Regions from separate parts of the Homo sapiens genome. Here region 2 is linked to region 1. Evidence: fine-mapped expression QTL. A gene starts in region 1. The other region holds a variant in brackets. All regions are shown on one strand. Distances are between the middles of the regions.

Region 1 (5,363 bases):
CATTCTAAAAGTGCATGGGGTGTGGGCTGAGCCACTCCACATCTGCCCATGTGCACCTCCTCCACTGTCATTCTCCTGGAGGCCCTGTGTCCTGACCTTCCACTCCACTTTCACCTAGAGGCCGGACTGCACTCTGTCAAGCGGGTGCTCACGTGCTTTTGCCTCCTTGCAGGTGGACAAACTGGATGCCTTGGAGAGTCTGCGCAAGCAAGAGGAGCATGTGACAGAGCCTGCCCCTCTCGTGTTTGGTAGGTGGCACCTGTAGCCCCCAACCCCCTGGGGAGGGAGCAGGGAGGGAGTCAAAGTCCCACTGCCCTTACCTGGCTGGGCTTTGGATGGGGATGGGAATAGATGGGTGGGGGCTGGAAGGATCCCAGTGGCTACTGGGTGTGGAGAAGTGTACGCCCAGGAATGTTGGCACGGCCGCTGTCCTCCCTGCTGTAAGGATGCCTGCCTTCTGATAGGGGTGCCTGCCTAGCTGTGAACTACTGCTGTGTCCTGCTGGGCCTGGCCCCTGGACAGCAAGGCTGCTGCTGGTGTGTGCTGGGAGGGGCTTTGCACCTGAGAACCTGCCCAGGGCAGCCTGGCTGTCGAGCAGACTGGAGAGGCTGTGGGGTGCTTGGACACTGTGGGGCAAACACAGGCCTGAGGGTGTGGTGTGAGTGTGCAGCACGCCGGCGGGTCTCCAGCGTCCGGCTGAGTGTGTCCTTCCACCATTAATGTCATTCTGGTTTTTTTAGATTTTGATGGGCATGAATGAGACCCAGCTGATTGCACTAAGTAAGTGTCCCATTTGGAGACTAGCTTATCCTCTAGCCAGGCCAGGTTCTCTGGCTGACCCCACGCTCCTTGCCTCTGGATGCCTGCTCTCTTGGGGCCTCAGCGTCTGGGTGGTAAGGGCTGGTCCTATAGACCCTGCTCCCTGGGCCCCGGGCTACTCAGGGGCAGCCAGGAGAGGACCCCCATGGGCAGGAAGAGCTCTGCTCATTGTGGGCTTCCCCCTCTGCAGGCCCTGCCGTGGGCCCAGCCCCTGCCAGCTTCCCCTATGGATATGCCTCTGCTCCCAACTTCGCCAGCCTCCAATGTACAACTTCCGCGTGTAGTGGGCGTTGTCACCACCCACCCTACCTGCAGAGTTACTAACTTCTCCAAGGAGCATGTCACTCCAGCAGCACAGGGGACGCAATGGGAGGCAGGGACACCTGGACAATATTTATTTTTGCTGAAACCCAATGACGGCAACCTCTGAGCCATCCCAGAGCCTGGGGAGGCCAGGGTAGAGGCTGACGGCGCAAGACCAGCTTTAGCCGACAACAGAGACTGGACTGTGGGCCCTCCTGCTGGAGCCAGGCCTTCCTCCTGGGCGCCTCCGACTGGCTGGAGCTGCCCCCTCCAGGCCAGTTTGAAGACTACATGAACACGTCTTGTTTGGAGGTACCGGACCTCATAAAAGGACTCTCAGCCTCTTGGCAATCATAAATATTAAAGTCGGTTTATCCAGGCAAAGGTGCTCTGCTTGGTGCTGGTATGGGTAGGAGGGACGGGCCAGTTTCCTAGGCCCCGCAGTCCATTAAAGATTTGCTGGGTCCTCTTTGGGGTGTGGGACCTCCGTTGCCCAGACAAGCTGCCTAGGAGAATACAGCCGCTTGCATTTGTGGTCTTTCCTGACCTTGTTCGCTGAGCGCAGAAACTACAACCGGGAAAGGTGTGGGTGGGAACCGGCAGGTGAGGCCCGGCCCGTGGCTGCTGCGGGAGGGGGGCCCGGCGGCGTAGCCCCTTCTCACCGGCCTCCCGCCTCCCGCCTCCAGGTTTGAAACGTTAGAGTTCCTCTGGGACTGGGCTAGCCCCACGTGTTTTCGGGGAGGGTGTGCCCCTGGCCTCCGGGATCCCTGGGGATCCCGCCGCTCTCGACAGTCGCGCAGACCCGAGGCCCGCTATCCCGCGGCGCGGCACACAGTGCACCTTGACCCACTGCTCGGAGCTGGGCCACGGCTCCGCCTCCCGCAGCCCCGCCCCCGTCCCGCCGCTCGCGGTCGCCCAGGGACTCGGCCTCGGCCATTGGCTGCGCTTTGGCCCCGCCCCTACGCCTGCCTCGGCGCGCCCCGCCCAGGCCTCAGTTTCCCGGCCCGCACGGGGCGGGCTGGGGGCGGGGCCTGGCTCGGACCACGCGGGGCGGGACCTGGAGCTGACGCGGCCGCCCCGCCCCTGGGACCATAACCGGCCGCCGCCGCCACCGCGGACCGAGCGCGGAGTTCTGGAGTCTCGGACCCGAAGCCGCCACAGGGCGCCCCGCCTCCCGCCCGCCATGCCCGCGCCCCGCGCCCCGCGCGCTCTGGCGGCCGCCGCGCCCGCGTCCGGGAAGGCCAAGCTGACGCACCCGGGGAAGGCGATCCTGGCAGGTGGGCCCCTCCGGGACGCGGACCCCTCTCCCGCCGCGCTTCTGGGTGGGCCCGGGACGCTGAGGCCCCGCCCCACTTCCGGGTTGGGCCGTGGGCTGGGGAGTCGTGGAGGCGCGGTCCTGGTCCCCACCCGGCGCGCTGGGACTCGCCCGCCTCCCGTCTGTCACCCCCTGCGCCTCGCCGGGACAACGGGGTGAGGGCATGGGGGCGTGGGGCCCCAGCCTATGTTCCCCGCGGCACTGGCGCGGCGGCCGCGCCGACCGAAGTCCGGGACGGGGGAGGGGCCCGAGCGCCAGCGGCCGGGCGGGAGTCTCAGGAGCGGGTTCCCGGTCCCTGCAGGCGGCCTGGCGGGTGGCATCGAGATCTGCATCACCTTCCCCACCGAGTACGTGAAGACGCAGCTGCAGCTGGACGAGCGCTCGCACCCGCCGCGGTACCGGGGCATCGGTGAGGAGGGGGAGGCCGCGGCGCCGCGGGGGGCGGGTACCCAGGGCGGCGGCACCGAGGGCCGTGGGGTCCTGACCGCCCCCTCCCCCAGGGGACTGCGTGCGGCAGACGGTTCGCAGCCATGGCGTCCTGGGCCTGTACCGCGGCCTTAGCTCCCTGCTCTACGGTTCCATCCCCAAGGCGGCCGTCAGGTGAGGCCCGGCCGGTGGCTGCTGCGGGAGGGGGGCTCGGCCGCGGCAGCCCCTCTCACCCGCCTCCCGCCTCCAGGTTTGGAATGTTCGAGTTCCTCAGCAACCACATGCGGGATGCCCAGGGACGGCTGGACAGCACGCGTGGGCTGCTGTGCGGCCTGGGCGCTGGCGTGGCCGAGGCCGTGGTGGTCGTGTGCCCCATGGAGACCATCAAGGTGGGGAAGGTCCTGGCGAGGACCCCGGACACGCAGGGAGTACGGAGACGGGCGGCCCCGCTGGCCCGGTGCTCCCGGGGCAACCGGCAAGCTGGGGAGGGTCTCCTGGACGCCAGGGAAGGCCGGCGGGGTGACCGCGGGGCCCTGGGGCAGGACGCCTGCCACGAAGGGCCACCCGTGGAGGCTGAGTCTATGCTAAAGGCAGCCTTAAAGTCTTTAAAAAATACTTTTATAAAGCAGAAAACAAAATGACACCTTCACTGCCAAAACTGGAAAAGAGCAGCAAACATAAAGGGAGAGGCTGCTCACAGGGCTGCCCTGTGTCCCAGAGCATGGTCCGTGTGGGCTGCCCTGTGTCCCGGGGCATGGTCCGTGTGGGCAGCCCAGGGCGGCCTTGGCTGCACTGCTTCCTGGGGAAGAGTTCCCAGTTCCCTCCACCCTGGATGGGCCCTGGGCCTGCCAGCTAGCCAGGACCCACCCAGGTGGCAGCCGAGAACCTGCGCCTTTGCTTCTCTCTCTCAGGTGAAGTTCATCCACGACCAGACCTCCCCAAACCCCAAGTACAGAGGATTCTTCCACGGGGTTAGGGAGATTGTGCGGGAACAAGGTGAGCCACTCGACCTTCCTGATAGGGCTCAGGGACCTGGGCCAGGGTGGGAAGGGCCTGCACCTCCCATCCTGCCTTGGGCTTTGTGCAACACCCACCCCCCACACACACCAATTCCCAACCGGGGCCTGAGAGGCTGCAGGGTAACCCCGTGCCTGCCTTCCCGCAGGGCTGAAGGGGACGTACCAGGGCCTCACAGCCACTGTCCTGAAGCAGGGCTCGAACCAGGCCATCCGCTTCTTCGTCATGACCTCCCTGCGCAACTGGTACCGAGGTGTGTCTGCATCACAGGGCCCCATCTCTGCACATGGCCAGCTCCTCTCCTCTCCTTGGGGCCACCCCTGGGTGGCGGGCACCCACCTTTTGAAGTGCTGATCCAGGCCCCTCCCGGCACCCTCTGACCCACCTCACCCCTCCTATATCCAGGGGACAACCCCAACAAGCCCATGAACCCTCTGATCACTGGGGTCTTCGGAGCTATTGCAGGCGCAGCCAGTGTCTTTGGAAACACTCCTCTGGATGTGATTAAGACCCGGATGCAGGTGGTGGGGCCGGGAAGGGGAGGGGAAGGGGGGACCAGGCCAGAGCTAGCTGCTGAGCCCCTGCCTGCTGATGTCCCCCATAGGGCCTGGAGGCGCACAAATACCGGAACACGTGGGACTGCGGCTTGCAGATCCTGAAGAAGGAGGGGCTCAAGGCGTGAGTGGGGGAGGGGCAGGGCTATTGTCCCCACCTCAAACCTTTCCCGGCCTACCTGGCCTGCCCACTCTGTCCCCTTCAGGCCTCTGTGCCTCTCACTTCAGTATCTGGGGATTGCCCTGTGCAGGGACACTGTGCTGACCTGCCTTCCTCTCCCCGCCCCTCCTCCCACCCAGATTCTACAAGGGCACTGTCCCCCGCCTGGGCCGGGTCTGCCTGGATGTGGCCATAGTGTTTGTCATCTATGATGAAGTGGTGAAGCTGCTCAACAAAGTGTGGAAGACGGACTAAGCCTAGAGAGGCCGCAAGGGGACCGCCCCAGGCACCGCCAGAGTGTCCTGCTACCTTTGTCTCACGATTCCAGTGCAGTAGTGCCAAAAGGCCCCTTCCCACGTCCCTCGAGCTCTGTAGCCTGGTCTGTGCATTGTGGCTGTCAAATCCATGTGTCCCCCCTGTGGTCTGTGTGTGACACCACCACTGTGTCCCAGTGTCTGGCCCAGCCATGGCTGGATGTGCATCTGGCCTATGACCCTGTGCCTGTGTTTCATGTTCTGTGTCACGTGACCCTGTGCCCCGCCTCCCGGGGTGCCCGTGTGGCCTGGGTCCTCGGCCCTGTAGCCCTGGCCCGGTCCCAGTCCGGTGCCTTCCACCCTGCCCTGGCCTACCACAGCTGCCTCCGGGCCTCGGCCTGGCTTCACCGCATTCCAGGGGCTGCAGCCCCCTGCTTCTCCCGCCATTGGCCTTAACTGGCCCTCGGGCCCTCTCTCCGCCCCGGACAGGGTGGCACCCACCACTCTCAGGACCA
Region 2 (5,370 bases), 85 kb after region 1:
TGGCTGAGGAAGACAGACATTAGGCCAGAAGAGCATGTCCCAATTGCTGATTTACTCATCAAATAGTGCTTCAGTACCAGTCATGGGGCAAGCCCTGGATTTATAATTATGAAAAGGACCTAGCTCCTGTATGGATGGCGGGGGTGAGATCTGGTAGGCCAAGGCTGTCTTTTCCAGAGAAGCAAGCACGTTAGGTGGGCCATGATTCAATTTAGTTCTTCAGTTCCAGGCATATCTAGTCCTAGAACACAGGGTGCCTGGATTTTTAGCCTTGTGGTCAGTATCTTTTGATCTCAAAATTGTTTCCTGATTTTTTAAACAGAAATCTATTTCATGATAGTTAAAAAAAGCCTTATTGAGGTATAATTGACTTATAATAAATGATACATAAAGTGTAAAATTTGAGTTGTTTTTTTTTTTTTTTTTGAGACGGAGTCTTGCGCTGTTGCCCAGGCTGGAGGGCAGTGGCGCGATCTGGGCTCACTGCCAGCTCTGCTTCCTGGGTTCACGCCATTCTTCTGCCTCAGCCTCCCGAGTAGCTGGGACTACAGGCGCCCGCCACCACGCCCGGCTAATTTTTTGTATTTTCAGTAGAGACGGGGTTTCACCGTGTTAGCCAGGATGGTCTTCATCTCCTGACTTCATGATTTGCCTGCCTCGGTCTCCCAAAGTGCTGGGATTACAGGTGTGAGCCACCGCGCCTGGCCAAGTTTTTTGTTTTTTTGAGACAGAATTTTGCTCTTGTTGCCTAGGCTGAAGAGCAGTGGCGTGATTTCGACTCACTGCAACCTCTGCCTCCCAAGTTCAAGCGATTCTCCTGCCTCAGCCTCCTGAATAGCTGGGATTATAGGCATGCACCACCACGCCTGGCTAATTTTGTATTTTTAGTAGAGATGGGGTTTTTCCATGTTGGTCAGGCTGGTCTCGAACTCCCGACCTCAGGTGATCCATTCACCTCAGCCTCCCAAAGTGCTGGGATTATAGGCGTGAGCCTCTGCACACGGCCAAATTTGAGTTTTCATATATGTATAAATCTGTGAAACCGTCACCACAGTCAAGATAACAAACACAGCGTATCGTCACCCCAAACATTTTCTCGTGCTCCTTTGTAATCCCTCCCACCCCCATCCCTTTCTGTCTTGATAGCTGCAAGTGCATTTTTTAGATTTTTATATAAATGTTGTCATACAGTAGGTATTCTTTTGAGTACATACTGGCTTCTTCACTCAATATAATTATTTTGAGATTCATCCATGCTGCGGAATGTGTTAATAGCTTATTCCTTTTTATTGCTGAGTAGTATTCCATTGTATGGCTGTACACAACTTACCAATTTGCTTCTTGATAGACACTGTTTGTTTCCAGCTTTTGGATATTACAAATAAAAGTACTATGAACAAGTCTTTGTGTGGACATATGCTTTCATTTCTCTTGGTTAAATACCTAGGAATGGAATGGTCAGATTATATGGTAGGTATACATTCAGTTTTTAAAGAAACTGTCAAATTGTTTTCCAAAGAAGTTGTACCATTTACATTTTCACTGGGAGAGTTCCAGTTGCTTCACACACTTGCCACCACTTGGTATGGTCATTCTTTTTCATTTTAGCCATTCTAGTAAGTGGTTTCTCTTCATGGTTTTTTGTTTTTGTTTTTGTTTGTTGAGACGGAGTCTCATTCTGTCGCCCAGACTGGAGTGCAGTGGTGCAATCTTGGCTCACTGCAACCTCTGTCTCCTGGGTTCAAGCAATTCTGCCTCAGCCTCCTGAATAGCTGGGATTACAGGCGCCCGCCACCGCACCCATCTAATTTTTGCGTTTTTGGTAGAGATGGGGTTTCATCATGTTGGCCAGGCTGGTCTCAAACTCTTAACCTCAGGTGATCCACCCACCTCAGCCTCCCAAAGTGTTGGGATCACAGGCATGGGCCGCCGTGCCCCACCTTTTCATGCTTTAATTTGCATTTCCTTAATGACTAGACGTTGAGCATCTTTTCATGTGCTTGCTAGCCATCTGTATATATCTTCCTTGGTTAAGTGACCATTAAGATCTTTTGCCTATTTTATTTATTATTTTTTTTTAGAGTTGGGGAGGTCTTGCTGTTGCCTAAGCTGGAGTGCAGCATTGCAATCCTAGTTCACCACAGCCTCCAACTCCTAGGCTTAGGCAGTCCTCTTGCCTCAGCCTCCTGAGTAGCTGGGACTACAGGCATGTGTCACCAAGCCCAGCTAATTTTTTTGTTTTTTTTTTGTAATGTAGAGATGAGGTCTTGTTATGTTGCACAGGCTGGTTTTGAACTCCTGGGCTCAAGTGTTGCTCCCACCTTGGCCTCCTAAAGTGTTGGGATTACAGGTATAAGCCATTGCACTTGGCCCATGCCCATTTAAAAAATTGGGTTGTTTTCTTATTGAAATTTGAGCATGCTTTATATATTCTGGTTACAAGCAAGCCCTTTATCAGATACATGATTTGCAAATGTTTTCTCTCTGTGTGTGGTTTGTCTATGCATTATCTTAACATGTCTTTTGAAAAACAAAAGTTCTCAATTTTGATGAAGTCCAATTTATCAATTTTTTTTATAGATTGTGTTTTTGGTAGATATATTAAAGGTATTTGCTTAAACCAAGGGTGCGAAGATTTTCTTCTTGTGTTTTCTTCTCTTGAGTTTTATAGTTTTAGGCTTCACCTGTAGGCCTATGATCGATTTTGATTTTTTTTTTTTTTTTTCGAGGTGGAGTTTCACTCTTGTTGCCCAGGCTGGAGTGCAATGGCACTATCTCGGCTCACCACAACCTCCGCCTCCCAGATTCAAGCGATTCTCCTGCCTCAGCCTCCCGAGTAGCTGGGATTACAGGCATGCACCACCATGCCTGGCTAATTTTGTATTTTTAGTAGAGACAGGGTTTCACCTTGTTGGTCAGGCTGGTTCGGAGCTCCCGACCTCAGGTGATCTACCCGCCTCAGGCTCCGAAAGTGCTGGGATTACAGGCATGAGCCACTGGGCCTGGCTATTCTGAATTTTTTATGCGGTTCAAGGAATGGATCAAAGTAGTTGTTCTTTGTTCCTCTTTCTTCCTCCTCCTCCTCCTTCTTCTCTTCTTTCTTCCTCCTCTTCCTCCTCCTTTTTTTAACTTCATTTTGTAGATGAACTCCTTCCTTCCTTCTTCCTTTCTTTCCTCCTCCTCCTC[CTCT/T]TCATTTTTCTTTCTTCCGTGTTTCGCAGTACCATTCTGTTGAAAGGCCTGTTCTTTCTTCAGGGAGCTGCCTTTGCACCTAGGTCTTTAAAAAATGTTTTTTCTCAGCAATGTTGAAAATTTTTCAGTGTACAGGACTTCACATCTTTTGTTAGATTTATACCTAAGTATTTCTTATTTTTTGATACTATTGTTAATGGTAATTTTTAAATACCTGAACTTACAGTAGAGTTTGTATAGAATTGACATCAATTCTTCCTTAAATATTTGGAGGAATTTTCCATTGAAGCTATTTGTGCCTGGAGTTTCCTTTGAAGATTTTTAACTAAAAATTCAATTCCTTTTAGGGCTGTTCAGATTGTTTATTTATTTTGGAGTGAACTTTGCATTTCATCTTTCAAAGAATTTGTGTATTTCATCCAAATTGTCAGATTTATTGACATAAAGTTTTTCATACTATTACCTTATTCTTCACTCCTCTGTTAGCCTTTATACTTTCTCTGGAATCCACAGTGATGACATCTCTCTTCTGATAGTAGTATTTTTTTTTTTTTAAGATGGAGTCTCGTTCTGTCGCCCAGGCTGCAGTGCAGTTGTGTAATCTTGGCTTCCTGTAACCTCTGCCTCCCAGGTTCAAGCGATTCTCCTGCCTTAGCCTCCTGAGTAGCTGGGACCACAGGCATGTGCCACCACACCTGGCTAATTTTTGTATTTTTAGTAGACAGGGTTTCGCCATGTTGGCCAGGCTGGTCTCGAACTCCTGACCTCAGATGATCTGCTGGATCATCTCCCAAAGTGTTGGGATTACAGGTGTGAGCCACCATGCCTGGCCTGGTATTTTGTATTCTTTATTTTTTTTTGCTGATCAGACTGTCTAGAGGTTTATTAATATTACTGATCTCAAAAAAACAACTTTTGTTTTTCTTATTTTCTCTATTTTTCTGTTTTCAATTTCAGTAATGTCCACTCTCATCTTTATTATTTCTTACTGCTGGGTTTCATTTGCTCTTCTTTTGTAATTTCCTTTTTTTTCAGGTTCAAGCGATTCTCCTGCCTCAGCCTCCCACGTTGCTGGGATTACAGGCGTGCATCACCACACCCAACTAATTTTTGTATTTTAGTATTCACCATGTTGGCCAGGCTGGTCTCGAACTCCTGTCCATTCACCATGTTGGCCAGGCTGGTCTCGAACTCCTGACCTCAAGTGATCTGCCTGCCTCAGCCTCCCAGAATGCTGGGATTACAGGCATGAGCCACCACGCCCAGCCCTTGCTGGTTTTCTATCTGCTTGTTCTATCAAGAGGGTTATTAAAAGCTCTGACTTTAATTGTGGATTCGTCTATTAGCAGTTACAGTAGTTTCTGTTTCATGAATTTTGAAGTTTCTTTTGTAAATTTTAATAGATACATAAACATTTAGGATTATGTCCTCTTGAATCAATCCCTTTATCATTATTAAATGACCTTCTTTATTCCTGGTAATATTTGCACTGAAGTCTACTTTGTGTGATATTAATACACTCCAGCTAGCCTTTTTTTGAGACAGAGTCTCACTCCTGTTGCCCAGGCTGTAGTGCAGTAGCACGATTATAGCTCACTGCAGCCTTAACTTTCCAGGCTCAGGTGATCCTCCCACCTCAGCCTCTCGAGTAGCTGGGACTATAGGCGTTTGTCCCAATACCCGGCTAATTTTTTGTATTTTTAGAGAGATGGCATTTTGCCATGTTGCTCAGGCTGGTCCTGAACTCCTGGGCTCAAGTGATCCTTCTGCATCAGCCTCCCAAAATGCTGGGATTATGGAGATGACAGGAATGAGCCATGTACCTGCCCTTCCAGCTATCCTTTGATTAGTGTTAACATGGTATATCTTTTTTATTCTTTTATTTTCTCTTATTTATGCCTATATAAAGTGAGTTTGTTTTAGGTAATATGTAGTTGTATCTTGATTTTTTCCCTACATGACAAATTCTGCCTTTCAGTTGGAGTGTTTAGATCGTTCTGCGTATTTATTGATTAGGCAAGTTTAATTAAAATCTACCATATTACCCTTTGTTTTCATTTGTACCATCTGTTTGTCTTTTTTTTTTCCTTCTTTTGGATTATTTTTTATTCTCTTCTATGTTGGCTTACTTGCCACAACTCTTGTGTTATTTTAGTCGGGTTCATCATTAACTTATCATAG

The links.
Region 2: its variant is fine-mapped to the expression of SLC25A1 in whole blood (INTERVAL, PIP 0.96).

What each region holds. Positions count from the first base shown.
Region 1 is chr22:19,175,616-19,180,978 of GRCh38, reverse strand. SLC25A1 (solute carrier family 25 member 1) reads left to right here and starts at 2,243. Exons shown (of 9, transcript NM_005984.5): 1 at 2,243-2,399; 2 at 2,739-2,846; 3 at 2,938-3,037; 4 at 3,114-3,252; 5 at 3,775-3,859; 6 at 4,029-4,133; 7 at 4,286-4,401; 8 at 4,485-4,558; 9 at 4,735-5,363. The coding sequence starts at 2,306. The coding sequence ends at 4,849. It overlaps CLTCL1 (clathrin heavy chain like 1), which reads left to right. Exons shown (of 33, transcript NM_007098.4): 31 at 173-248; 32 at 741-780; 33 at 1,010-1,506. The coding sequence ends at 760. RefSeq lists silencers at 1,647-1,746, 1,947-3,026 and enhancers at 2,198-2,945, 5,196-5,363.
Region 2 is chr22:19,090,717-19,096,086 of GRCh38, reverse strand. The region is part of intron 1 of DGCR2 (DiGeorge syndrome critical region gene 2); the gene reads left to right. LOC124905078 (a long non-coding RNA gene) reads left to right here. Exons shown (of 2, transcript XR_007068002.1): 2 at 1-1,400. Among named protein-coding and RNA genes, the nearest start is that of DGCR2, 29 kb to the left of the region's middle. The variant CTCT/T (reference allele first, on the strand shown) is at 3,187.